7 linked regions of the Homo sapiens genome follow. The protein of the gene in region 2 purifies or fractionates together with the protein of the main gene of each other region. This does not show direct contact. Each region holds a gene or a part of one and is shown on either strand. Other genes may lie near its edges. The genes, in order: LRRC45, CKAP2, CAPN13, OAS2, MAP9, POLR3E and TRPM8.

Region 1 (4,193 bases), on a different chromosome or scaffold from region 2:
GCACATGTGGGGCAGAGGTGGTGGGAGCTGCTCCACCGCAAAAGGCAAGGGCCATCCTGGGGCATCTGGCCACCATCCCAAAGGTCAAGGGGCACTGCACAATGCTGAGGCAAATGCTGTGCCCAGCTCAGTTCTGGAAAGATCTGGGTAGCATGTGGCGAGGGGGCAGAGGTCAGGAGGGATGACAACAACCAGGGCAGTGCCGAGGCGAAGCCAGGGACGGCGCAGCTGGAGTCAGAGGCCAGGCAGAACCAGCAGGAGGGATGAGCCCTCAGCACAGGGGCTGGAAGAGGCTGCCGCTGTGCGCGGATTAGGGAGTACGGGGGGCCTGGCAAAGTCCCCAGCTGAGTCTGGGGCACTGGGGCCTGAGGCTGAGACATCAGCTGCAAGGATTCGGGGTCGCTGGTGGGAGGGAATGTGTGGAGGCCAGCACAAGCCAGGGGGCCCCACCTCACCTGACTCACATGCAGGGCCACAGACTCAGGGTGACCAGGGAGCCTTCCTGGCCAAGGCCAAGACCTGGGCCACCCGAAGCATCAGCAAAGCCACCAAGGCCAGGACTGTGAGCCACACGGCCTCAGCTTCCCCAGCTGTGAAACGGGCACCCTCCACTGCACAGGTCCTAAGAACTCAGCAAGTACACAGGGCGCCTCGGACAGTGCCCATGTGTGGCGAACGCCATTCAAGTGCCAAACAGGTGCCCCACGACCCCTCCGCTCCTTCCTGCTTCCCCTGGGCTCTCAGGCTGCTCTCCTCATCAGTTCCCGTCCTGAGCCCGGCACCCCGCCCTCGGTGGACAGGCCTCTGTCAAAGGCTCACGCGTCACTCCACACAGCCCTGCACCGTACCCACGGCTCTGAGGACGTCTCCAGGGATGTTGTTCCCAGCCAGGTCCAGTCTCCACAGGGTTCTGTTGCTGGGGAGACAGTTCATGAGGGCCCGGCCCCCCAGGAGGCCAACGTTATTCCAGCGCAGGTCTGGAAGGAAACCTGTAGTCACCAGACAGAATGCACCTGGCAGAGGGGGAGCTGGCCTGGCCGGGGTGCTTCCCTAGGGGGCACTGCCTTGCAGTCATCAACAGAGCAGGAGCACAGGCCAGTCCCCTAGCCCCTCACTTCCCAGAGCAGAGGCAGCCTCAGAGGGATGAGGGAGCCTGAGGGCGCCTGGGAGGCCTCACCCAGCTGCTGGAGGGTGGTGTTGCCCTTCAGGGCTAGGGCCAGCTCCTCCGCGCCCTTGTGACTGATCTGGTTGTTGCGGAGGTCCAGCCGCTGCAGGGCGCCGTTGGCCGCCAGGCCCCCGCAGAAGGTGGCGAAGGCATCGTCCCACGTGCCCAGGCTGTTCCACTCCAGCGTGAGGCTGCAGGAGGGGCAGAAGCCAGTGTTCACCTAGGGGACTGCCTAGCCCGTGGGGTCCAGGGCTTGGGGACGGGTGTGGGCTTGGGGTCTGATGGGCCGGAGCCTCTGCCTACCCCTGCCAACGTATGTGAAACATGGGCACCTGGCAATGGGGAACTCTTGGGCTGCAGAAGCATGTGCTCGGGGCCAATCCTCAACCACACAGAGACAGGGCCTGGGGTCGGGACCACCACCCACCTCTGAATGGACTTGTTCTGTTGGAGGAGTTTTCCCAGAGCCTCGGCCCCTGCAGCCCGAAGGTTGTTGCCCTAGGAGAGAAACAGGCCGGTAGTCACTCGCGTGCCCTGACTGGCTCTGAATTCCCGCCCATGCCCCAAGGGCCTTGGTCAGCCAGGGGACAAGCCTGGGGTGCACCCTGCAGCCTTCCTCAGCTCCTGGGCTCCCTGTCTTCAGGGGGCTTCCAAGGGCCGGCTTGTTTGCCAATGTGAACTCTTGCTCTGGAGATGGTCACACACAGGAGGCCATCAGAGAGCGGCCTGGGGACTCACAGACAGCTTCCAGCCACCTGCCCAGACCCCAGGCCCCCGAGACCTGGCATCTTCCACCTCTCCTCTTGCCCTTGGGTGGCACACTCGGACACTCAAGAGTGCAGGTATCTCACCTTTAAGTCCAGAAAGCGCAGCACGGTGTTGGCACACAGGCCTCGGAGCAGCAGTGTGGCCCCTGTGTAAGGGGGGCCGGCGGTCACTCTCTGCCCCTGCTGACCCCAAGGCCCTCCCCGTGGGCCCCTTTTCAGGGCAGCTCCCTAGACCCAGGAAGGGACAACTGTCCCGATGGTCTGGGTTGGCGCTGGCCAAGAGTCTCGCTGCGAAGTCATGTTTGAAACACCTGCAGCCCCTGCCAGGCACCAAGCCGGCTCTGCACGCGGGGAACCAGGTAAGACCGCGAATGTTAAGGCCTCTCCCCCGTCATACAGAGGAACTGCCCTCTACTCCCAGGTGCAGGAAGGGGCGCCCCTGCTCGCTTTAACTACGGCACAGAAATTGGAGAGCCTGGAGAGGAAGCGACCTCGGGCTGCCGAGGCAATGGTGTGGGCAGCTAAGGAGCAGAGGGATCCACCCCGCCGCGCCTGCCCACCTTCCTCGCTGAGCATGCAGTCACTCAGGACCAGCTCCGTGCACAGCGTCTCCCTCGGCAGCAGCTTGCCCAGGGCCCTGCAGGTCTCCACCGTCAGGCTTTGCGTGGCCAGGTCCAGCCGGCCCCTGGGAAGCTGGTGCAGCTGCTGCAGGACAGCCTCCTGGGGCTCGGCCCCACTCTCCCTGCACAGGCGGCTGTAGGAGCGCCGGAACTCCTCCATGACCCGCGGGGCCGGCAGGGCCTCCTCCGCATGCTCCCGCAGCTGCTGAAAGGGAGCCGCGCGGTGCGGAGCAGTCCCAGCGCCGGGTACAGGAGACGGGGCCTCCGCCGACCCGGGCGGAGAGCAATCCGAGTGGGCTCCGCGGGCGGGAGGTCCTGGGAGCGCGGGGCTGGGCGGTAGTCAAGGTCCGCTTTGGGCTGGGGCCCCGCAGTGCTTGGGGACCACCCGTGCAGGAAGCAGGCAGGTGCGTCGCGCGCCCCCACCCAGCCCTGCCCCGCCTGCAGCCCCGACCCCCGCCCTCGCGACAGCCGCGTCGGGGCCTCAGTATCCAGGAAGAACAAGGCGCGCCGGGAGAGGCCGCGGGAACTACAACTCCTAGCAGGCTCTGCGCAGGCAGCGCTTGGTGCGGGCCAATGAGAACAAAGGAACTGGCGCGCCTTTCGGGCCGCAAGCTGAGAGGGGGCAGCGCGCTCCAGGTTCATTGGCTAGGGGCATGAGGGTGGGGCCCCGGGAGGGCATGCTCCGGGCTCATTGGCTGAGGGTCGTGAGGGTGGTGCCCCGGGAGGGCGCGTTCCAAGTTCATTGGCTGCGGGACGTGAGGGAGGGGCTGCTGGAGGGCGCGCTCCGGGCTCATTGGCTGAGACGTGGGGGCGGGGCTCCGAGAGCAGGCGCTTCGGACTCATTGGCTAGGGGCGCGGGGCGGGGCTCCGGGGGCGCGCTCCGGTCTCATTGGCTGGAGGCGCGGGGCGGGGTTCCGGTGGGCGCGCGTTGAGGCTGCGGTCATGGAGGGAGCAGGAGCTGGATCCGGCTTCCGGAAGGTGAGGGCCGGAGGGCAGGGGCTAGGCAGGCGCGGACGCTCCGTCCCGACCTCACGCGTGACACTGTGAGGGCCAGACGCCAGCCCCCGCGCCGCCCCCTGTGCCTTTGAGGTTGGGCCCGTTCTCAGACTCCATCTCCGGCCGGGCCGCGCGCCCCGCGCCCTCGTGGGCTGGTGTCTCGCAGCTGGTAGGAGGGGGCGTGGAGCAGCCGGGGCTGCGGGAAGGTGGAGAGGGTCTGCAGAAACAGGCAGGGGTGGGCGCCGTCACGGCGGAGTCCAAGCCGGCGAAGAGAGAGGAGGAGCTGGGCCGCCGCCCTGCGCCCTGAGCCTGGGGTCTTTTGTTAAGGGGAGATGAGGCCCCAGGACGGGGACAGTGAGATCGTCCAGCCCGAGGAGCCGGCAGGACCTACCCCAGCCGCCAGGCACAGTGGTTTCCCTTTTGTTTGCTCCCCGGTGGGCGCCAGCACTGGGCTAGGAACGCGTGGTTTCTTCGGTGCTCCACGTTACACACACTTGACAGGGATTAACCCCACCTGCCAGTGGAGAAACTGAGGCACGGGGGCGTTAAGTGACTCAGCAGGGCTAGGGTCAGACCTAGGCCGTCTGAGCCAGGATCCGCCCAGGCTGGAGGGCGTGCCCTGCTCTTCCCTGTTCCTGGAAGTGG
Region 2 (3,751 bases):
TTTTTATCTTACCTGAGCCCCTGCCAGAATGGCTTTCTCATAGATTGCAATAATATTTTCAATAGGACTTGTGATTGGTTCAATAAGTGCAAGACATATCCAATACTTAACAAGCTTTTTGGCATCTGGAATATTTTTAATCAGGTCATTCAGTGTGACCAGTATATCTTCTTTTGGACATCCCTAAAAAAGCAAGAAAAAATGTGTGTAATATTTTTTAGCTTACAAAGTGGGAACAATAATTGAGCCTACTATAGTCAAGATCAATGATAACGATAGCCCTAAGCATAAAGCAAAAAAATGAAACATTAGTTGAGAAATTTATTAGTAAAAAATGAACACTTATTTGATCTTGATTTTATCCTCATATATATTGTGGGATTCCATTTGTTAATACCTTCTACCAAATGTTTATGAGTAAGAATAGTCTGCGGAGTTTTTTTTCCTCGTCTTTATCAGGTTTTGATATTAAGATTAAAATGAATCTGTAATGGTTTATGTCACAGTTACATATAATTAAATAATAGGGCAGAAAAAGTTCATAGTATCAAAAGGAAAAACTTAAACTGAGCAGAAATAAACTCTAATTCTATTCTATTAGAGACTCAAGAGTTTTCCTGATTGTAACTTTTACTGGTGTTCAGAACCACAAGAAGTTAAAAGATGCTCATGAAGAGTAAAGTTTGAAATCATACCTTGAATTCAGTTTTGCTGTGGATCTTACACACTAGTGGGTGACCAAAACAAGATTAAAGAGCAGTCAGGAAACAAAGATATTATCTATTATTAAACAGAATATTGTTCTGGAGCTGATTATTATACTCCATAGGATTTTGGTCCAAATAGCAAAATTCTGCAATAAATTCAAAAACATGATGATGTTGGCTTAGATGAATGGGATTGTTTTTTTTTTTTTTTTTTTTTGAGACGGAGTTTTGCTCTTGTTGCCCAGGCTGGAGTGCAACGGCACAATCTCGGCTCACTGCAACCTCTGCCTCCCAGGTTCAAGCGATTCTCCAGCCTCAGCCTTCTGAGTAGCTGAGATTACAGGCACCCGCCTCCATGCCCAGCTAATTTTTGTATTTTTAGTAGAGACAGAGTTTTACCATGTTGGCCAGGCTGGTCTCAAACTCCTGACCTTGGGTGATCCGCCCGCCTTGGCCTCCCAAAGTGCTGGGATTACAGGCGTGAGCCACCCCACCTGACCAGATGAATGGGATTTTTTTTTTGAGTATTTTAGGTAACTTAATCTGTGATAATAATGACTCACACAGTATTTGTGTTGCTAGTCTTTGGTAAAATGTGTAATGAACGTAAAAAATAATGTGTAAATATAATGAATAGATGTAAGAAACAAAATATTAGAAGCAGTAAGTAAATATCACCTCAGTGTATTACATATTAATTAGCTCAGAGAAATCAAATATTTGTAATTCAGTAAAAAAACCCAATTATCCCTTTGATACAGGTTGAGTATCCCTAATCTGAAAATCCAAAATCTGAAATCCAAAACTTTTGAGTATCAACATCACAATGCAGATGACCATCATTAACACTGCAGAAAATGTACCTACAGGCGACAAGGTGAAAGTATGCAACAGGCTTACTGAAGAACTAGAGCAGCATTTATCCAGAACAGAAAAAGAAATCATGTCCCTTTATAAAATCAAAGAGAAACTTCTAAGACAAAAACCATTGCTAATGAGGCAGATGACTCTGAAGTAAATATCTTAAAAAGCCACCCAGCAGAATGCCTCCTTATCCCTAGAGAACCCACTTCCTGGTCCCTCAACTGCTTCTGGTGTTTCTTCTCACCTAAAAAAATAAAACACGGTGTAAAATACCTCTTAATTAAACACAACATCATAGATGGAGATTGAAAACGTGCTGCTGTTTGTTGTTGCTATTGTCTAACAGCTGATACAGGCGTTCTGATGATGCTACTGTGCTGCTTAATTACTCTGAACATATTTTTCACTGTATTAATGTGTCTTTTTTTAAACTGTTAATTAATTATGTGTGAATAAATGTAAGAGAATAATTGCTTATTGGTAGCATGGAAATTCAGAGTGAGGAATGATGGTGTTGCCAAACAACCAGACTGTCCCATGGGTGGCTGACAAAGTGACACCTTTGCTTTCTAATGGTTCAATGTATACAAACTTTGCTTCATGCACAAAACTATAAAAAGTATTCTATCTTTAGGCTACGTGTATAAGCTGTATATAAAACATGAATGAGGCCGAGCGCAGTGGCTCACACCTGTAATCCCAGCACTTTGGGAGGCCGAGGTGGGTGGATCACATGAGGTCAGGAGTTTGAGACCAGCCTGACCAACATGGTGAAACCCTGTCTCTACTAAAAATACAAAAAATTAGCCAGGCGTGTGGTGCACACTTGTAATCCCAGCTACTCTGGAGGCTGAGGCAGGAGAAGGGCTTCAACCCAGGAGGCAGAGGTTACAGTGAGCTGAGATCACACCACTGCACTCCAGCTTGGGTGAGAGTGACTGTCTCAAAAGCAAACAAACAAACAAAACGTAAATGAACTTTGTGGATCTCATCCCCAAGATAACTCATTATGTATATGCAAATATTCCAAAATCCAACAAAAAACATCTTCAATTACTTCTGGTCCCAAGCATTTTGGATAAGGGATACTCAACCTGTATATTTATATGAACTCAATGCAAAATGTAGTCAGTTAAAGGCTAATAAGCTCACAATTAATGAATGAAGCAGTGTATCTCGCAATTAAATAATTGTTAAAATAACCTCACAGTTAATGTTAAGTCAACATAGTATCACCAACATCACCTGGTCAAAAAGACTGACAATATAATTTAATGAAATAATGCTTATGAAGGTAATTTGCAAACTATAAAATGCTAAGCAAATATAAAGACTCTACCTCATTAATCAAGTTCAGGCATTCAGAAAATGTGTTGTTTACTTTTTCAGTAAATAATCTTTGTTCATCTTCTTCTGCCATGGTAGTCCAAAAAGACCCAACTGGTTTTTCATTTTGTCCTGCAGGCTCATGCTGAGTAACTACTGAATTAGGGGGCCTTTTTAGCACTCTTCCTTTGCCAGCTTTCCACTCACTCAGACGAGCTCTATAGTTAGAAGCAGATATAAACGTTACTTTGAAATTGCTGACAGAACTCTGTCAAATAAAGTTAAAAGAAAAAATCATATTTTTAAGTAATCTTACTTTAATGGCATATATAGTTCACAAGCTTGAAGAAATATTAAACATATCAACGTCAATTATGCTCAATGATTCCATGAATGCATTTTTTGATTTGAGATTATAAAGTATTTCCCAATTATTATTAAGCATTTACCTTAGATTTTAAAAAGCAACCTTATAAAACATACTCAAACACAAAAACTTTTAGGTCATATTGTTCCACAATATAAATTTGCCTGCATATGACAGAAGAGAAACCATGAAAGAAAATTCTAATGCAGTCAAGGAAATTATAATCCAAATCTACAAACAGTACTTTATTGAAAACTAATGTAATAAAGAAAATTATATCTACTTACTTTCTCTCTTCCGAGGTTTCTTTGGGCTGAGCTGATCTACTATCAACAATTGCTTTTCCTGCAGTATGTCTTCGCTGGTCAACGGGCTCTGACTTTTCCATCAGTTTATCATTAGACAATGAAGCAGGCCTGGCTATAACTTCAGATGCTATGGATCTTGATAGAGTCTTATTTCTTATTATACCTTGAGAAGAACTGGT
Region 3 (4,221 bases), on a different chromosome or scaffold from region 2:
TTCATCCAAATATTTGATCATAAATGCTTTATATCAAGGAGCCCCCAGCAACAGCCCCCAAAATTAGTGTTCTATGTATACCATGCTTTAGGAAACACTTGACCAAAAGATAGAGTCCCAAGGGTGGTAGAAAATCAACACCTCCTCTTGATTCTGCTCCCATCTTTTGCATGGCCGTGGACTTCCTTGCTGTCTATCAGTGGCATGCTCCACCATGGACGTTCTGAGAGAGTTAGGATGCCCTCAACCTGACTTCTTCCAAACCTTGAGGAGAGATGGAATGGACCAGCCTATCCAAAGTCCCCTTTATGGTTTTCTCATGGGAGAAAGAGGTGACATCTAGGCAGGAACATTAGTGCTGTACGCAGTGTTCAGCAGATATTAATGATAATTCAGTCTTTATTAAACCTTTCTTAGGTGCCATCTCAGGTTCTCTTAGCCTCAACCTGTCTCTAGGACTCTTGGTCCCTTTTTTACTCCAGCCAAGGAAGTGGCTCTTCTGACCACTTCTGGACTCAGATGAGGTGCCAAGCCTCTAGCAATTAGATCTAGTTTTCCCAGTGGCTGCCACAGGGGTCAGAAGACACAAGCTGGAAGTGCAGGACAGTTAACTCCCCATAGGGCAAGCTTTGAACAATAAGAGAGGAGACAGAGTGAGCCAACATATAAATGTCCTCTCTACCCTTGCTCGGATAGACTCTTCCAAGGCACAATGCATCTGCAACGCCAGTCCAGAGGGGCCCTGCTTTGGCCAAGTGGCTGGTCATGTCTCTTTGTGAAGAGAGGCCAGGTGGTGGCACATCATCCCTCACTGCTTCCCCTTTTTCTCTTCCCATTTCCCACTTCCCTGACTCTCACTCCCCTGGTGTCTTACCTTAAGTGCTAAGTAGCACTTAAGCTTTGCCTCAGGCTTTGTTTTATAGAGAACCCAGGCTAAAATAATGTCAACAATAATGACTAAAATATCTTCAGCACTTGCCATGTGCTCAAGTACTGCTAAGTGCTTTCCATATAGGATCTCATTTGATCCTTTCACTGATCTTTTGGGGTAGATTACTGTTGCTACCATGTCTTAGTGATGAGGAAACTGGGACCCCCAAGAGGTTAAGGAGCATGCCCCAAATCACACAGCTCACCATATGGAAGCATCAAGCACAATGCTTGATACGGAGTGAGCCTCAGGGCCAGTAGGTTGGTCTTTTTTTTTTGAGACAGGGTCTTGCTCTGTCACTCAGGCTGGAGTGCAGTGGCATGATCATAGCTCACTGAAGCCTCAACCTCCTGGGCTCAAGCAATCCTTTCACCTCAACCATGGACCCCTCCCCCTGCCTCCAATAGCTGGGACTACAGGTGTGCACCACCACATGTAGCTAATATTTTTTCCCAGACCCCCAATTTTTAATTTATTTTTGTAGAGACAGGGTTTCACCATGTTGCCCAGGCTGGTCTTGAACTCCTGGGATCAAGCAATCTGTCCACCTCGGCCTCCCAAAGTGTTGAGATTACAGGTGTGAGCCACAGTGCTTGGCTTAATGTGTGCATTTCTTCATAGCATCTTTTCTTCTAAGGTGTTCTTTCAAGAGGGTAACTGAATACAACCAAATAACTAGGGGACAAGACAGGGTACCTACCAGGCACAGCAGAACTCCAGCTCTGTCATTTGCATCTGGTATAAACTTTTGCAGCAAGTCACTCACCGGTCCCTCACTTTTTCCATCTACAAAATGGGATAATGAACTCATGCTATATATAGCTTTTGCCTATTACACAGTTGGTAGATTATTACATTTCCATCAACCAATCTACTAATAAGTAAGCCTCCCTACAGCTGTCACTCCTCCAACCTTCAAAATAACAACAACAACAACAACAACAACAAAAACCCACAATACTTATGTCAAGGTGGGTACAAAGGTGAGACAATTCAAGAGGATAATCTGATTGAAAGTCTAGTTAATGCCACTCGGGGGTAACCAAAGTTGTGTTTGTGACCCAGGACAAATGGGACAGTCAGTAGTTCATGACCCAACTGTAACTATAGAGGGAAAATATCTGCACTTATTCTAATCTGGTTAACTTGGGTCCAAGCTGAGCAGCTGGAACTGTCTCCCTGAGAACAGCATCACATCTCAAAGATTACATAACTTTAGCAGTTACAGAGACACATGTGTGTGACCATGACACCACTAGAGGCATATAGGAACCTCCTGAATCTCTGAAGTTGTAATGATCTGTCTTTTGTGATTAACCCAGAGTTGTCAACTTCATTCCTATAACTAATAAGCTAGATGATTAGAAAACAAAGGGCCCAGGTCCCATTCTTCCCTTTAGCAAATGTTTATTAAGCACCTACTATCTAACAGAAACTACACATCAGTGCACAAAGAAGACATGATTTCTGCCATCAATGTGTCCCTTACGGTGAACACAGCCCTCAAGGTCACAACTTAGAATGATCAGAAATCGAAGGTGACAGAATGATTAAGAAATACTCTCTTTGCATGAAATATGCAAAGTTTGGATTAGATTCTCTTAGAAAATTAACTCCCACTTTGCCCTAGTTTTTCTTAAAGCATATCCTTGGACCACCTGCATCAAAAAAACCCAGCTTCCAGAGCTACTGAATATGTACCTTGGGAGGTGGGAACTCAGAAGCGACATCATGAAGCTCTCTAGAAAATTGTACATGCTCACTAATGTTTAGAGGACTGCCTTGGTCCACAGCTCTGGGACATGACCACGCACAACTTACCTGTTTCCTAGGCAGGTGTGTCTGATGGAGGAGGGGAGACGGGCAGGTTCCACAGGCTCTCAGGTTAGAGAGTGGTGGAGGAGACTGGCAGAGGAGGAGAGCATGGCCGGCCGTCTTGGAGAAAGAGCAGTGCTGGTGTCTGCTTACTCCTGACCTCAGGCTTTTCCTTATATGGGTGTACCAGGTAAAGGCAGGCTCCACCTTCGTTAAACAGTGACTTCAGCATTGGGCAGTGGCCTGCCACCTCTTGGAGAGAGAGAGGACATTGAATGTAAACAGCAACAGCTTCCAGATTCTCCGCCCCAAGCCTATCTCTGCCTTATCCCACCTCACTTCCTGGGGCCCCTAAGCTGCCCGTTTCTTGGCTCTTGCAGTTTTCATTGTTTCCAGATATTTAAGTTTCTTTATCTTTATTCTGCTTCAGGGAATTTGTGTTTTGTTTTGGTTTGTTTTACAAAACCCCTCTGCTGAGAAAAGACTGAGGGAAGCAACCTTCCTTCAGGCCTCATTCTCATACAGGAAAGTACAATTGCCATGTCTCCTGCATCAAGAGTGGCCACTCCACGTCAATCATATCACATCTCTTTCTACTAGACGCAGTATCTTCTTTCTACAAATACATTGTAGAACACATTAACTCCTGGGCATGGCGAGACCCAGGGAAGGTCTCTGCATCATCCCTGCTTGCTGGATGGGGCAGAAAGAGATGAGGCGTGTAAAGTGCATGTTTCCTGTTCTCAAATCCAAGGGGCTATTTGCTTTTCTGGCATCTTTAATTCCTTGATGTTCTTCATCCCCATTCATAAGTGCTCTTTAGAAGCCAGTTCCAGAACCCTGATCGCATGGCACACCCTATGCTATAGGCAATAATGATAAAATAGGTAAAACAGGGAAACAATGTGGAAATCACCAAAAACTGTTATGACTGGTCCATTCCCAAATTCTGATGAGTAGAAAGGGATATTTGGCACATGAATGAAGAATCTGAGAAGCTGGAAAGTATGGATATGAGTTTTAACCCCAGTTTTGCAACTTTTGGCTGTGTGACCTGGGCAAGTCCCTTCCCATCTTAGTCTATTAATCCGTGAGCTGAGGATTATGATGCTTACCCTGTCTGCCTTGTGTTTGTTTAGTGGGATTCCTGCATCCCAGCGGACACCTTCTATTAGAAATTTCACTATAAATACAGTAAACAATACACACACACACACTATTGCATAAACATCATCAGTGAATAAATACGCAGATATCTGTGGTGCATGTTCAAAATGATTTTACTAATAGAGCATGCAATGAAAAATGTTGGAAAGCCATAGTTTCAGAAAAAAATGGTGAGAAAATGCTTCAGAAAGCCCTACCCACAAGGATATATCACAAGACAGTGTCTCAAGAAAATTAATTGGGAGTTTTCTTGCTTATTGATGATGGTTTTGTCATCTCCCATCTCTAAAAATATATTTTTCCCCCTA
Region 4 (4,273 bases), on a different chromosome or scaffold from region 2:
ACTAGGCCCCCGTCTGTCATCTTATAAAAAATTAACTAAAAATGGGTTAAAGAGTTAAACATAAGGCCTGAAATGATAAAATTAATAGAATAAAGCAGAAGAGTAATGCTTCATGATATTGGTCTATGCAAGTATTTTGTGGCTAAGACTTCAAAAGCACAGGCAACAAAAACAAAAAATAGACAATTGGGACTATATTAAATGAAAAAGCTTCTGCACATCAAAGGGAACAATCAAGAGTGAAAAGACAAGCTGTAGAATGGGAGAAAATATTTGGAAACTATTTTTCCAACAAGGGTTTAATATCCAGAATATACAAGGAACGTGAACAACTCAACAGCAAAGAAAACAACCCATCCCATTAAAAAGCAGCCAAAGGGCCTAAATAGACATTTCTCAAAAGAAGACATACAAAATGGCCAATGGGTATATGAAAAAATGCTTGACATCACTAATCACTAGGGAAATGCAAATCAAAACCACAATGAGATACCATCTCACCCCAGTTAGAATAGCTATTATCAAAAAGACAAAAAATAAACGCTAGCAAGGATTTGGAGTAAAGGGAATCTTACACACTGTTGGTGGGAATGTAAATTAGCACAGTCATTACGGAAAACAGTATGGAGGTTTCTAAAAAAAATAAAAATGGCACTGCCATTCAATCCAGCAATCCCACTACTAGGTATTTATCCAAAAAAGGGATAACTGCACCCTCATGTTTATTGCAGCACTATTCACAAAAGCCAAGATATGGAATCAACCAACGTATCCATCAGCAGCTGAATGGATAAAGACAATGTAGTATATATACACAATAGAATACTATTCAGACACAAAAAGAATGGAATTCTGTCATTTGCAGCAATGTGCATGGAACTAGAGGTCATTATGTTAAATGAAATAAGTCAGGCATAGAAAGACAATATTGCATGTGTTTATGTGGAAGTTAAAAAAAGTTGATCTCATGGAGGTAGAGAGTAGGATCATAGTTACCAGAGGCTGGGAAGTAGAGGAGGAAATGAAGAGAAGTTGGTTAATGGATACAAACATACAGTTAGATAGAAGGGATAAATTCTAGTGTTTGATAGCACAATGGGGTGACTATAGTTAACAATAATTTATTATATATTTCAAAATAGTTAGAAGAGAAGATCTGAACTGTTCTCAACACAAATAAATGATCAATGTTTGAGGTGATGGATATCCTAACTACCCTGATCATTTCACATTGTATCCATGTGTCCAAATATCACATGTACCCCATATAAATATGCACAATTATGTAAAAATAAAAAAACACAGTAGAATGGACAAATGTGGAATATTCACATAATGGAATTGACACAACAATGAAAAGATAAACAACTGTACCCCACAACATAAATTTCATAAACATCATAGGTCAGAGAAACCACGCACTAAAGCACACAGAGCCCATGATGCCATTTATGTAGGGTTCACCCATGCATCCTGGTTTACATTCCCAGCTTTCACACCAAGAGTCCCACATCCCAGGAAACACCCCAATCTTGGATGAACTGGGATAGTTGGTCACCCTATAATTGTAAAACGTTTAAAAACAGGCAAAACGTGTCTATGCTGTTAGAAGTCAGGAGATTGCCTACCTGGGTTTGGAGGTGCTGACTGGATCGGGGGCCCAGGGCTCTGGGGGGCTGAGAATGTTTTGTTTCTGGATCTGGGTGGGGGTTACACAGTTACATTGTTTGTGGCTACCTATCAAGCTGGACACTTTGATCTGGGCACTTTTTCTGTTTTACTTCCATGAGGAAAAAAAAATTGAGAGGCAGGATAGTGTAGTGGTTAAACATGCATGCCCTCAAGCCAATTACCCAGGCTTAAAATCCCAGTTCTGACAATAGCTATTAACCAAACTTGCCTTAGCTTGCTGGCCTGGGCCAGGGCTGGGGACACCACGTGTCTAGATTTCTTTATTGAGGCACTAGCGGATGTGTGCAAGGGGTAGAGACCAAAAAGTGTGGCAGCAGCAGAGAAGGGACGTCAGCAGCTCAGGAGGCTAAGAGGATAGTATTGGGCCATCAGGACCCCCACGCCCCCAATTCTAGGGTCCTGGCATCTCCCCAGTCCCCCTTCCTCCCCAGAGGTCCAGAATTTTCAGCCTCAGTCCTGAGATTTGTGTCCACAAAACCAAATATTTCTAACTGATAAAAGCCACTCCTTCTTGCTGCGGAGAAACCACAAGGCAACCTGGGTAGTTTGAACAAAGTTCTCTAGCCTCCCTAAGTTTACTCCTCTGTACTGTGGAGAGGATAGAAGAAAATCGCAGTGAGTAATCACAGTGAATTCACTGAGCACTGCCAGTCTTTTGCTAAGAACATGATGTGCTCAAGCCTTACGATACTCTGAAGTGGGTATTATGCCTCTCCCCATTTTACAGAGTCAGAGACTGAGGCACAGAGAGGTTAAGTAGCCTGCCCAGTGTCACACAGCTCTGGAGCAAGCGCCTGCTCCAGAGCCTGAGACTCCTACACCACATCCCACCCAAGTGTGGGCCTCGCACATAATAGGCACCCAGCACCCAGTAGCTCGGCCTTGCTGCCGCCGTGGAATCTCCTGCCTCCCAGAGACCCAACCTCAGCCCTGGACTCACTATGGCCACTCCCTGCACCAGGGGGAACTGTTCGGGTTCCTGCAGGACGTCACAGATGGTGTTCACCATCTCGTCGATCAGTGTCTGACATTCTTCGTAGGGCTTCAGGTATTCCTGGATAAACCAACCCAGCTTCTGAGCAGGCACCGAGGACAGCTGGGACTCCCCATTTCCCATTGCTCTCAGCTGGCTGCCGGCAAGACAGTGAATGGTAGGATGGGAGGCAGAGGAATTCTTGCTGCTGCCCAGAGCCAGGAAACTGAAACTGAAGTCTAGAGGCCTCTCTCCACCCACTGCAGCGAGCTTACCAACTCTTGTATCCGGGACAGGGAAACAAAACTAACTTAAGCTCAGAGGCTCTGCCCTGCCCCTTGCAGTGAGTTTACCAACTCCTGCATCCGGGGCAGGGAAACCAAAACTAACTTAAGCTCAAATGCTCTTCCCCGCCCCTTGCAGCAAGGTTTACTGACTCCTGCACCCCAGCAGGGAAACCAAAACTGACTCAAGCTCAGAGGCTTTCCCTGTCCCCGGCAGCGTGGTGACCAGCCCTTCAGGGGCTCCCCAAAACTTGAGGTTAACTAAACAGCCTCTAGAACCCCATTGTGAGGGCTTCATACCTGCTAGATGTCTGTCCTTGAGCACATCGCCTGCCCTCTTCGCGCCTCAATTCCCCCATCTGTAAGCTGGGGGAAAATGGCAGCTCTCTCGTAGGATTAGCTTGATGATTAAATAATACCTGCAAAGTGCTTAGAAGCAGGGGCGCACAGGTCATCTTTTGAGGCTCTGTCCCTTTCCCCCTGTTCTCAGTGGCCAGGGAACTCACATTCAGGGAAAGCGGCAGAGAGGAAAAAGAGACCCAGAGAGGGAACTGACTTGCTCAGGGACACACAGCAAAGCAGGGACCTAGCTGGACTCAGGTTTTGGTCTGCTTCTGGGTAAACACAGGCCCCCGTGTGGTCAGCGGGTGGGAACCTCTGTGTGTCCAGTTTCTCAGCACACTTGTGGACAGCCGAGGGACCGTATGAGGCACTTGTCCAGCCTCGCAAGGGCAAGAAAACACACCCCAAGTGTGTGAGCCAGAAAGGAGACAGACATGCAACTCCTGTGCCCAGAGCTTTGAAAACAAAACTCGCAGAGGACTCCCAGCCAGCTGCCTTGGCCCAGCAATAATAATTCACAGAGAAGGCAAAAATCTCCAAGATGTAGTGGGGGACCAGGGCCCTTCCATACTGGGATGGTTAATTTTATGTGTCAAGTTGGCTGAGCCCAGGTACCCAGATATTTGGTCAAACATTATCCTAGATCTTTTTGTGAAGGTATTTTTTAAAGATAAGATTAACATTTACATTGGTAGACTTTTTTTTTGAGTAAAGTGGATTATCATCTGTAAGGTGGTGGGCCTGATTCAATCAGTTGAAGGCCTTAATAGACTAAAGACTGAGCTCCCCCAAGGAAGAGGGAATTCGGCTGCAGTGCCTTGGCCTCCACTTGCAGCAGCAACTCCTTCCTGGGTCTCCCACCTGCCAGTCTACCCTGCCGATTTTGGATTTGCCAGCCTCCACAATCACATGAGCCAATTCCTTAAAATAAATACCTCAAAATAAATATAAATACCCTGTTAGTTCTGGAAAAACCTCGATT
Region 5 (3,751 bases), on a different chromosome or scaffold from region 2:
AGCAGGAGGGATTGGAGGGATTGTGGTATGTGTGCATGACAACTGTTAGCCCAGCATTTCAGAAACACAGATGACAAAATGGCTGTAGATAAGGCAGTGAAGGACAAAACCATAAAATCCGTTTTATGTTGTTTAAAGGCAGTTAAGCTTTTATTCTGTAGGATTGGATCATGGGGAGCCATTGAATAATTTTGTAGAAAGGAGTGATGTGATCTGATTTGGATTTTGTAAATATCATGGAAGCAGTGATCTAGGAAAGAGTGGATAAGGACCCGACAGCAGGGATGTAGAAAGTGGAATAAATGAGATATTTGGCAATTAGAATTGATAGGATATATTGATACTCTGGATTTAGGGGATAATAGAGGGAGGAATCTAGAGCCCTTGGATTTGGGGTTGAACATTTGGCTGGAGTTTAGGATGTAGCTAAAATTGTCAGCTACTTATAATAATACCAATTTGGTATGGTTGTGGAATCTTCTGGCAGAATCCATAAGCCCATTTTTAGGTAAATGGGAGGAAGATGTTAATTAGACCAATTTTGAAGTTGAGAAAAATGCATTTGTAGAACAATAGAAACATAAATATGTATAGCAGGTAAAATGCAGGCAAAAAATATATACATGGAAAGTCTTCCCATTGTTTCGAATACTGGATGCAAATCAGCATTTGATTCTTGATTTAAACTTAGAAGTAATGGAAAGAGTGAAATTTTAATAAATGCTAAAGAAGTTTTATGGACTCAGAACAATTAACTCATAAAAGATTCCTTCCTCTAATGAGAGTTAGCACTCCTATCCCTTGAGTGCCAACATCATCATCTTTGTCCTTATAATAGCACTTATAATCTTAGTAATCTAGTCTTGTAATTTTGTTTAGAAAAATCAACCTGTAAAGTACCTGGACAGGTCCATTGCCGCTTTGTTGATTATGAGGTTTAGTAACGTGTACAGGGCTTGGTACTCAAAGGCTTGATGGATGAGCCTCCTCATTTTATAGTGGTAGAAACTGGGGCAAGATTTTGTTTTGTTTTTTTATTTTTAACATTTTTTTTTTAATATTATAAGAGTTCACAATGTTGAAGAGTTAACTTCTTGTGACTGGTTACTTTCAGGATGACAACTGTTTCTTTACTTTGTTTTTTTTTTGTTGTTGTTGTTGTTTGGTTTTTTTTTTTTTTTTAGATGGATTTTTGCTCTTATTACCCAGGCTGGAGTGCAGTGGTGTGATCTCGATCTCGGCTCACTGCAACCTCAGACTCCTGGGTTCAAGCAATCCTCCTGCCTCAGTCTCCTGAGTAGCTGGGATTACAGGCACGCGCTACTAAGCCCGGCTAATTTTTTTGTATTTTTAGTAGAGACAGGGTTTCACCGTGTTAGCCAGGCTGGTCTCGAACTCCTGACCTCATGATCTGCCCACCTCGGCCTCCCAACGTGCTGGGATTACAGGCGTGAGTCACCGCTCCCAACATGTCGGGATCACAGGCGTGAGCCACCGCGTCCGGCCTGATTATTAACCATCATTTATTTGTGCCTTACTAGAGCTCTGTATAGAGAAGAGTTGTGGGCTTCATCTGGACTCTTCAGGACAGAGAACAAAGGGGCATAGGCACAGGAGGGAAGTATGGTAGCACCCAGAGAGATAGATAAAGCCATGGTCATTTTTTTATACACACACTTTAAGCATTTTATTTTTCAGCAGAAAACAACAGCCTTGACACAGATGATCACTTTAAACCATCACCTCGGCCAAGGAGTATGTTGAAAAAGAAAAGTCACATGGAGGAGAAGGATGGACTAGAAGATAAAGAAACTGCCCTCAGTGAAGAATTGGAGTTACATTCTGCACCTTCTTCCCTTCCAACGCCGAATGGCATACAATTAGAAGCTGAGAAAAAAGCATTCTCTGAAAACCTTGATCCTGAGGTTAGCACTACCACTAAACTGTTGAATTGTGTTCTTGAATTTATGCTTTTTTATCTGATTATGAAAAAGAGAAGGAGAGAATGAATTTGTGTGCGTGTGTGTGTGTTTTACATACTTTCTTCTGCAACTGATAAGGAAATAATTTTTAAAAATACACTGTATTCCACCGAGTCTAAAACTGCATCAATTGTAAGACGTAGCATTATTTTACATACCACTAAGGAAGAAGGAAATGCATCCAATTAAACTATAACACACCAGTGATTGTAGAGTTTATCCAGTTTTAGAGAAAGTAAAATGTCAAAAAGTGTTGCTTTTCTGAATCTATATAATAGTGTTTATCTTTAATAATTTTTTAAATTTATGTATCTTTGAATTATGTAATTTATGGCTAAGAACAATATAGTCAGTGTCATTTTATTTATTTGATTTTATTCACTCAACAAATGTGTGTTGAATGTTCATGGCACTCTTCTGTGTTCTTTGGGTTATGTTCCAATAGCATTAAATGTGGCCTTTCAGGTTTCCATCAGGGAATTTACTATGCATTGTTATTAAGGGAGAACACTTCGTTTTTCTCTTTGTATTTCACTATGAGAAGCAAACTGTCCCTTCTGAACATTTCAGAAGGGAAAAGTACAGGAAGAACATTTCTTCCCCATAATCTGCTTGGGCAGATTAGGGAACTGCATGCCACCTGGCCAAGCTTCTTTCTTTTTCTCATCGCTTGTCTGCAGTGTTGGTGCTTAAGGATCTGCTCTCTGGGAGGTGAGGCAGAAGGTGCTGAGAGGAGCTCTTTTGTGCAATGACTAAATGGGGGAATCCCCCTAATTCAGACTGGAAGTATTAGGAAGCACAATAGGCTACCAATTCAAATCTTGTTCTGCAGTTGAGCTTTACCAGTAAAGCTGACAATTTGATATACGCCTAACTGACACCACCATGCTGTTTCTTAATTTGTTCTGAAAACCAGAAGAAGAAACCCAAGCAAATACTTTATATTTAAGAAAATTATCTGATCCATTGAATATTGTGCTAGTTTCTTGTAGCTGCTGTAACAAATTGCCACAAACTGGTTAACTTAAAACAACAGAAATGTATTCTCTTAGTTCTGGAGGTCAGAAGTCCAAGATCAAGGTGTTTGCAGGGCCATTTTCCTCTGAAGGCATCACGGAAGAATCCTTCCTTGCCTCTTCCAGCTTCTTTCTAGTGGTTGCCAGCAGTCCATGGCATTCCTTGGCTTGTAGCTGGCTTGTAGCTGCATCATTCCCTTCTCTGCCTTCATCCCATGTGGCCTTCTTCCCTGTGTTTTCTCTGCATGTCTGTGTCTCTTCTTTCTCTTAAAAAAAGACACCAGGCATTGGATTTAGGGCCCACCCTAATTGAGTGTGTCCTCATCTTATCTATTTAAAGCTGTAAACACCTTATTTCCTAAGAAAGTCGTATTTTGAGGTTCTGGATGAACATGAATTTTGGGGCATTAATGTTCGTATGTTAAACCTAGCATTCCCGGGATAAACTCTGGTTAGTCATGGTGTGATATTTTATTGTGGGATGTGATTTGTTAAAATTGTGTTAAGGTTTGCATCTATATTTATGAAGTCTATTGGTCTGTAATTTTTTTCTTATAATGTTACCATCAGGCTTGGGTATCAAATGAGTTGGGGAGTGTCTTTTCTTCATTTTATAAAAGTTTGGTATCATTATTTTCTTAAATGAGAGGATTCACCAGTACAATTATCTGGGCCTGGAATTTTCTGTGTGGAGACATCTTTGGCATTACATTTGATTTTTTAAATAGGTATTTCAGTACTCACATTTTCTGT
Region 6 (3,751 bases), on a different chromosome or scaffold from region 2:
ATCTCTACCCCATGGATCCATTTGCTTGCCTCATCCCTCCCTGTCTGCCCCAGCCCAGATGCAGGAACATGGGTTCCAATCCCAGCTTCTGCTACTCACCATCTCTGAGGGCCTTGGGCAGCCACAAACCTGTGCCTCTCACCTCACCATGGGGAGGAGGCCAGCACACCCCCCAGGGCCTGACAGGGCTTCAGCGAGAGGGGGAGTGTGATGGGCCCAGTGAAATGCCCGGCTTCGAGTCTGCAGATATCCTCCGTACAGTGGGGAAGCTGCGTCTGTTTCCCATCAGCCTGGCACCAACTCAACTGTGCTTTAACACCCAGAGTCCTCCCTCCTGAAGATGCCAACCCTGATGGAGGGGCGCCCCCTTCCCCATAACTCTTGGGGTACCCTGGGGGTTCTTTTCAACTGCTTCCCACATGTACCATGTCAGTGTGGGTTAGAGGCACTGCCTGACTCCCAAGCAATCCAGGCCACTTGGTCCAAAGGTAGACCAGGACAAGTGTGACACAGGCCTGGGTCCTGGAGAGAAGGGGACAGGGGAGGGGGCATCTGGGATGGTAGTTTCCAGTCCTGGTTCCATCACACAAGTAGCAATAATGGTTACTACCAGTAAAAGCCCTGTGAGGCCTCCAATACACATTTGCATTTGAGCATTAGAAACTGGGGAGGTAGTACATGGGGAAAAGTAAGCTCAGAGAGGTTTGCTCACTGTCCATGGTCACACAGCTAATAAGCAGCAGAACCAGGAGTTCAAGTCAAGTTCTCGATCTATTCACTTGCCCTGGACCTCAGCTCCCTCATGTACAACACAGAGGTGGCTGGGATCGGAGGTCTCTTACGTCTTGGATGTGACTACAATACAGTCTCCTTGTCAGGATGGCAAGGAGAGCATTACAGTTAGGGCCATGGTGTCTCCTGGAGACGCTGGCCCCACCCCAAAGCAACATGGACAGAGGGGGTCCGGAAGGAGGGGTGAGGGTGTCTGAGGGTGGCCATGTCCCACCCCTCACCTCTGTCCACTCCAGCGGCCCAAAACAACTAATGTCAGGCAGGTGTCCTGCCTGTCCTGGCCCAGCTCATGAAGAAAGGTGAGCTTGTGGAGACCCAGACCCATGTGCTGGGTGGGCAGGAGCTCCGAACTCTGCCAGTACCTCCCACAGGGGGCTGCCTGCCAGCAGGGCCGATCCCCTGAGACAGCCTAGGCTCCACAAGGCCTCCTGTCCTAGTTTCTATTCCTCATACACAGGGATGGGCCTTGGCCTCAGATCATCACCCAAGGCTGCAGGCCCGCTCCTGACCTTGGCAATGAAAACATCAATGCTTTCTTAGAGACCACCACAGCCCCACCTCACCCCATTTTGCTGCCAGGTCTGGGCAGAGCCTTGTGGAAAAGGAGCACGGGAAAGGCGTGCCTCAGGCAGCACCTGGCGCTCTCTATCCTCAGCGCAGGGAAACGGTCCCCAGCAAGCACTCTGCTCCCCCGTCAGGGCCCCTCCCAGTGACAGAAAAGCAGCCCAGGGGGAAGGGGCAGGAGGCTTGCAATACCACACTCAAGGCCTGGCACTGGAAGTGCTGAGAGCACAGCGCTGAGCTGGTCAGCTTGCTTCTGATGCACAGGGAGGCCGCCAGGACCCAGGCCCAAGCTGGGGCGTGGCGCAGCTGTGGGGAAGCAGCTCATCTTAGCTGAGCAGAAAGGATTCAAAACTCCAGGCCACTATACTGAGGTCCAAATTCCAGCTCTACTACCTCCTAGGTAGTGACCTTTAAACGTACATTTCATTCCTTGGAGCCTCAGTTTCTTCATCTGCAGATTGCAAAGAAGATCAAACGATCTTAGAAGTTAAATCATTCCAAACAATGGCAAAGCTAGTAGGAAACAGGTGTTCTTGGTGGGGGACAGGGTGAGAAACCAGGCAGGGGCCCTGTTTCACTAGGCCCTGCTGCAGGCCAGGCAATAGGCCGGGCCTTCAGACACCGTATTTAGCCCCTACCACAGTCCTGTGACATAAAACCCAACATGATCCCATTTCATGAGAATAGAGCCTCAGAGAGGCTGACTTGCCCATGTCACACCTAGGCCCACGTGAGAGCAGATGCTCACCAAGCATGGCCTCCCGTGTCCCCACGTGGCCTCCCAACAGCTGGTTCTCCCCACCCCCCACCCCCCATGCCCCTGGCAGGCAGGGCTCTACTTACAGGCACCAGTATCTGCTTGCAACCGGCGGCCAGCACCGTGTCCTGTAGCATGCGGTCCGAGATGCCGCTGAAGAGTGTGTGGCCGGGGGGCAGGCTGGCCAAGTGCAGATTGAAGAGGCGCTTGAGTTCGCTCAGCGTGAGCACAAACTGTCTCTGAAAGGTGGCCTCCACGAAGGCCTTCAGTTCCCGAGCCACAGGGGTGCTGGCGCAGCCCTGGGGCGGGTGCCCGTTGAAGCTGTCTGTGCCCGCAGCCCGCCCGAGAGGCAGCCCGTTGGCCAGCTTGCTGTGGAGGCCGCTGGGGGAAGTGTCCATGGGCTCCTCCTCCGCCTCCTGCTCCTCGTCCTCCTCGCCCTCCTCGCTCACGGGCTCCTCCTTGATCCGCACACCGGGCGGGACCGCAGGCACCCGCAGCTGCTCCTTCCGCCGCTGCAGCTCCCGCTCCAGCAACGCGTGGTTCTGCTGGGCCTTGGTTTTGGCTACTTGGATCCGCTGGTCCCCACAGACCAGCCCGGCAGGCCCTGCGGGGAGGGAGGCAGCACTGCTCAGGAGGGCACAGGGATCTGAAGCCAAAAGCCCAGCAGGGGACCGCGGGGCTGCAGCAAGTGGTCCCGTCCTGGTCTCATCCCCAACCTTTCTCGAAAATCAGCCACCCCATCAGTGGAAGAGAGAACCGTCCCAGCGTGCCGAGAGTCATGCGGGGAAGGGTGCTGCTGAGTTCCTCCCCCCAGCAGCTCTTCCGGGCCCGCTTGTTGACCCAAGAGGGTGAGTGAGCCTCAGAGACCTGGAACCCAGACTCAGCCCTGGAATCCGCAAGCCTCCGTCCCTGAGGCTCTGCTGCTGGGCAAGCGACCAGCTGCGGTCTGTGGGTGGCAGGAAAGGAAGGAGGGTGAAGGGTGAACGGTGAGAGCCCTCCACCCTCTCCAGGTCCGGGCCTGACAAGCTCTAGCACAGCAGCCCTTCCGGAGCCACAGTGTAGGAGCCGGGGCCTCCCAGCCCAAAGCCCCTCACACACCTGATTGTGCATCCGGCTTCTTTGGCATGGTTTCCTTTACAAGATTATAGACTTTTTCCAGTCTGAAAAGAAGAGTAACCCCATTAACTTTAAACCACGTCCCCTACCATCTGCTTCACAAGAGAAACAACCACCCCTTAGGCCCCAGGACACGCTGGTTACTGACAGCGCAGGCTTGGAGCTCAGCCAGCCCTACTGAGTCCCTCTTCTGGCAGAGTGCACAGCCCCAGGACCACCCAGACCCCATCAGTCTTCTGCCAACACCCCTCTGGTCCCCAGGCCCCAGCTCTTGCTCCTGAGTGCTCCCTCTCTCCATCACATCCCTCTTCCCTGAGCCCTCAGAGCACGGCCACCCTGATGAGCAGGTACTGGCTGTGTGTCCTGTGCTGAAAGGATGGTGGGATCAGCCAGCAATGCCTATCAGTGTGGGTGAGGAGCGTGGGGCCTGCGGACCCCCACCTGCCCTTCACACCCAGATCCAGCCCAACTGCGCTCTCCCCAGATGTGGGGTTTCTAGAGATTGCTCGGATCCACCCTGAC
Region 7 (3,751 bases), on a different chromosome or scaffold from region 2:
GCTCTTCTTTCTGCCCAGCATGTTCCCCTTATTCTGAAGTCCTGATGGTTTACTGATTCTAACCAGATATTGGTCCGAAATTTTCACATTGATTGTAAGCCTCTTTACATGCAAACTCAATTTTGGCTGTTTTTGTTTTTTTCCAGCTCTGGACAGTTTGTTGTTGTTGTTGTTGTTTTATTGTTTTCTAGTTACAGCCTCCCCAGGCAGAAGAGAGAGTGAGGTGCTTCCCCAGGCACGACAGAAGCTGAGACTAGAAGTCTCAAGACCCATGAGTGAAATGCTTAATTGACAGTCGTCCTTACTTCTAATGAAGCTGGCACCCTAATCAAGTGTGGCAAAGACTGGCAGCACCGTGTGACCCCATGTCAAACCAGAGGATGTGCTCGAGATGTGCAGTGGATGCCGGCCCATGGAGCCCTGCGTGGTAACCTGGTGCCGGCAGCATTGGGCAGGCAGAGCACGGCAGCAGGGGACATGGGGCTGTGTCCCTCCACTTTAGCCCACCCCACCAAGGAGGGAAAACCTTGGTACAGCTGCACCACACCTAGCTGTGGCCATTGCTAGAGGAGCCATGGAGAACACTGGAGATTTGTCATGTCAGTAACAGGCCTTTCCAAAGAAAAGAATGTTCTACTTACAAGAGACAGTCATCAGAAAATCAACAGAATAAATCTTCCCCAAGATAAAGAAAGATTTGAGTCTTCACAATAAAAACCTCACTGGGTCTGCTGCCAAGCAAAATTAATAGGGCCAGAGGTATCCAGATGAAATCATTTAAGTATAAGAATAAACATAAAAATGGCCGGGCACGGTGGCTCACACCTGTAATCTCAGCACTTTGGGAGGCTGAGGCAGGCGGATCACGAGGCCAGGAGATCGAGACCATCCTGGTTAACACAGTGAAACCCATCTCTAACAACAACAACAAAAAAAATTAGCCAGGCGTGGTGGCGGGTGCCTGTAGTCCCAGCTACTCAGGAGGCTGAGGCAGGAGAATGCGTGAACCTGGGAGGCGGAGCTTGAAGTGAGCCGAGATCGTGCCACTGCACTGCAGCCTGGGTGACAGAGCGAGACTCTGTTTCAAAAAAGAAAAAAGAATAAACATAAAAACATACAAGCAATATAGCAGAAAAAAATTACTAAAGGAGAAAAACCAGGCTGGTATAAAACTTCTCTTCTTCAACACTATAAACTAGAAGAAAATGGAACAGTGTTTACATTTTTTTAAGAGGGAAAAGATTGTGATCTAGGAATTGTATCCTGAGTCAATTCAGCTGTGAGGGCAGTAGAAAGACACACTCAGGAATGGGGAACAAGGAAGGCAAACACTCACATAACTTTAGGCAGCTCTGGAAAGGGAGACAGGGAGGCTGGAGGGAAAATGTCAGATATAAATAATAAGTAGAGATGACGTGGTAGAGGTTTTTTTTCAGTTTAAATGTTTATATTTTATCTCAATGCAGAAAGAGTTGAAGAAACTTACTAAAATATTATGTAAAGCAAAGGAACCAAAGAGAAATAAATGAGCTGAGGATAAAATAAGAGAAAGAGACTGGTTAAGTGAGGAGCTTATCCAGCCACAGGGGAAGCCTGTTCCAAGGTCCTCAGGGGGCACTAGAAATCATGCCCTAAACTTACCAATGGCCAAAGCAAAGGGATTGTAAAAAGAAAATAAAATTTTAGGACCTTCCAGGTTGATTATGCCAAGGGGAAAAGTGAAGCTCTGAAAACAGAGTCACATAGCACAGCTATTTTTGCACAACCCTTGCTGACTGACTTTTGCAAGGGTTGTGCAAAACCAGATGGAGATGTTCTACCTTAACCGGACTCCCTATCCTTCATTCTAACCTAGACTTAATTGATGTTGGAGACAGAGACCCTTGCGACTGTAACCTCTTTACAATAGACTGTTAAGCAACCCCCTTAGAGTATAAACAGTAGTAGTCAATCAAATCTTACATTTGTACAGTAGCCTTCATACAGAAAATGTGTTTCTGGCCGGGCATGGTGGCTCACGCCTGTAATCCCAGCACTTTGGGAGGCCAAGGCAGGGGGATCACTTGAGGTCAGGAGTTTGAGACCAGCCTGGCCAACATGGCGAAATCCCATCTCTACTAAAAATACAAAAATATTAGCTGGGTGTGGTGGCGGGCACCTGTAATCCCAGGTACTTGGGAGGCTGAGTCACCAGAATCCCTTGAACCTGGGAGGTTGCAGTGATCCGAGATCACGCCCCTGCACTCCAGCCTGGGTGACAGAGTAAGACTCCATCTCAAAAAAAAAAAAAAAAAGAAAAGAAAAGAAAAAGAAAAAAGAAAAAGAAAAAAAAGAAAAGAAAAAAGAAAATGTGTTTCTGTTCGGCACCTCTGGCTTTGCCTGTATAAATGATTCTCCCTTTTCCCCATCCCAGGTGCAGTGATCACCATCCTTTGCTGTCATTCTGCTGTCTGGATGGCGGCCCTCATCTTTGCACTTGAATAAACTCTTTTAATTGGATCCTGAGCCTTTTGATTATTTTAGGTTGACAGGATGAACATAGTCAATTACAAGCTTCAAGGCATCCATAAACTAACTTCAAACCCACATTCCCTGATACAGAGGCCAGGGTGAAAAGAACTCCTACATTTGGGGACAGGTAGGATGAGGAGGATGGGGTGATTGTAAAGGGGCAGAGTGAAGGGGCTTTTCTAGTGATGGAACAGTTCCAAAATTCGGTTGTGGCAGTAGTTATACGAATCTACTGACGTGATAAAATTGCATTAAACTATACACACATGAATGAATGCATGTCCAAGTGGTGAAATCTGGGGCCGGGCGTGGTAGTTCATGCCTGTAATCCGAGCACTTTGGGAGGCCAAGGCGGGTGGATCGCCTGAGGTCAGGAGTTCGAGACCAGCCTGGCCAACATGGTGAAACCCCATCTCTATTAAAAAAATACCAAAAAATTAGCCAGGCATGGTGAAGGGCACCTGTAATCCCAGCTGCTCAGGAGGTTGAGGCAGGAGAATCACTTGAATCCAGGAGGCGGAGGTTGCGGTGAGCCAAGATCACACCATTGCACTCCAGCCTGGGCAACAAGAACTAAACTCCATCTCAAAAAAAAAAAAAAAAAATGGTGAAATCTGATAAAGCCTTTGCATTGTGCCAATGCCAATTCTCTGGTATTAATCTTGTATGATAGTTACATGAGGTGTCACCATTGAGGGGAACTGGGTGAAGAGTACACAGACCCTCTCTATGCTTTTTCCTCTTCCACTTCCTGTGAAGCTATAATTATCTCAAAATAATAAGTTAAAAGAAAAATGCCTATGCCAAAAGCACACTGGGCCACATAGTGGTAAATATCCCTGCACAGCCATGCAAGACTTACAGCACTAAACTTAGCCTGGCTATTTCTTAGAATGTCCTGAATGCAAGTTGAAGCTATGCCATGAAAGTAAAATTCAATGGAATTATCTCCATGGCAGGCCCAAAGGAAGGGACCTTCACAGAGAGATAGCTAAGGATTTGTCCAGTTCTAGGATTTACTTGTTTAACTATGTCAATCTTTGCTTTCATGTTTTTAATCAATAATCTCAATTATTTCTATTCATGGTCTTTACTCTCAAAAATTTCAAATGGGCCTGATGAATTTAATGGAATCTTAATGACCACCATAGAGATAACCTCAGTAAAAATTAAAATCAAGATGGACTCTTGAAATACCGTTCACATTTTTTTCAAAACTTCACGATAGACCTACCATACC

Evidence for each region.
Region 1: the proteins of CKAP2 (region 2) and LRRC45 purify together in Homo sapiens (affinity purification with mass spectrometry; one large-scale study listed by BioGRID and IntAct). This does not show direct contact.
Region 3: the proteins of CKAP2 (region 2) and CAPN13 purify together in Homo sapiens (affinity purification with mass spectrometry; one large-scale study listed by BioGRID and IntAct). This does not show direct contact.
Region 4: the proteins of CKAP2 (region 2) and OAS2 purify together in Homo sapiens (affinity purification with mass spectrometry; one large-scale study listed by BioGRID and IntAct). This does not show direct contact.
Region 5: the proteins of CKAP2 (region 2) and MAP9 purify together in Homo sapiens (affinity purification with mass spectrometry; one large-scale study listed by BioGRID and IntAct). This does not show direct contact.
Region 6: the proteins of CKAP2 (region 2) and POLR3E purify together in Homo sapiens (affinity purification with mass spectrometry; one large-scale study listed by BioGRID and IntAct). This does not show direct contact.
Region 7: the proteins of CKAP2 (region 2) and TRPM8 purify together in Homo sapiens (affinity purification with mass spectrometry; one large-scale study listed by BioGRID and IntAct). This does not show direct contact.

Annotation. Positions count from the first base shown.
Region 1 is NC_000017.11:82,022,163-82,026,355, reverse strand, and holds the start of LRRC45 (leucine-rich repeat-containing protein 45), read right to left. Parts: upstream 3,052-4,193; 5' UTR 2,713-3,051; coding exon 2,493-2,712; intron 2,079-2,492; coding exon 2,017-2,078; intron 1,664-2,016; coding exon 1,593-1,663; intron 1,357-1,592; coding exon 1,178-1,356; intron 978-1,177; coding exon 849-977; intron 1-848. Other genes in the region: CENPX (centromere protein X), read left to right, coding at 3,495-3,530. UniProt on the Homo sapiens protein: Component of the proteinaceous fiber-like linker between two centrioles, required for centrosome cohesion.
Region 2 is NC_000013.11:52,461,727-52,465,477, reverse strand, and holds part of CKAP2 (cytoskeleton-associated protein 2), read right to left. Parts: coding exon 3,552-3,751; intron 3,116-3,551; coding exon 2,911-3,115; intron 184-2,910; coding exon 13-183; coding exon of another isoform or gene 4-12; exon of another isoform or gene 1-3. UniProt on the Homo sapiens protein: Possesses microtubule stabilizing properties. Involved in regulating aneuploidy, cell cycling, and cell death in a p53/TP53-dependent manner.
Region 3 is NC_000002.12:30,804,550-30,808,770, forward strand, and holds the start of CAPN13 (calpain-13), read right to left. Parts: upstream 2,898-4,221; 5' UTR 2,753-2,897; intron 1,718-2,752; exon of another isoform or gene 1,632-1,717; intron 1-1,631.
Region 4 is NC_000012.12:112,977,145-112,981,417, reverse strand, and holds the start of OAS2 (2'-5'-oligoadenylate synthase 2), read right to left. Parts: upstream 2,900-4,273; 5' UTR 2,810-2,899; coding exon 2,633-2,809; intron 1-2,632.
Region 5 is NC_000004.12:155,366,760-155,370,510, reverse strand, and holds part of MAP9 (microtubule-associated protein 9), read left to right. Parts: intron 1-1,698; coding exon 1,699-1,925; intron 1,926-3,751. UniProt on the Homo sapiens protein: Involved in organization of the bipolar mitotic spindle. Required for bipolar spindle assembly, mitosis progression and cytokinesis. May act by stabilizing interphase microtubules.
Region 6 is NC_000016.10:22,324,727-22,328,477, reverse strand, and holds part of POLR3E (DNA-directed RNA polymerase III subunit RPC5), read right to left. Parts: intron 3,274-3,751; coding exon 3,212-3,273; intron 2,718-3,211; coding exon 2,200-2,717; intron 1,808-2,199; coding exon of another isoform or gene 1,718-1,807; exon of another isoform or gene 1-1,717. UniProt on the Homo sapiens protein: DNA-dependent RNA polymerase catalyzes the transcription of DNA into RNA using the four ribonucleoside triphosphates as substrates.
Region 7 is NC_000002.12:233,920,221-233,923,971, reverse strand, and holds part of TRPM8 (transient receptor potential cation channel subfamily M member 8), read right to left. Parts: intron 1-3,751.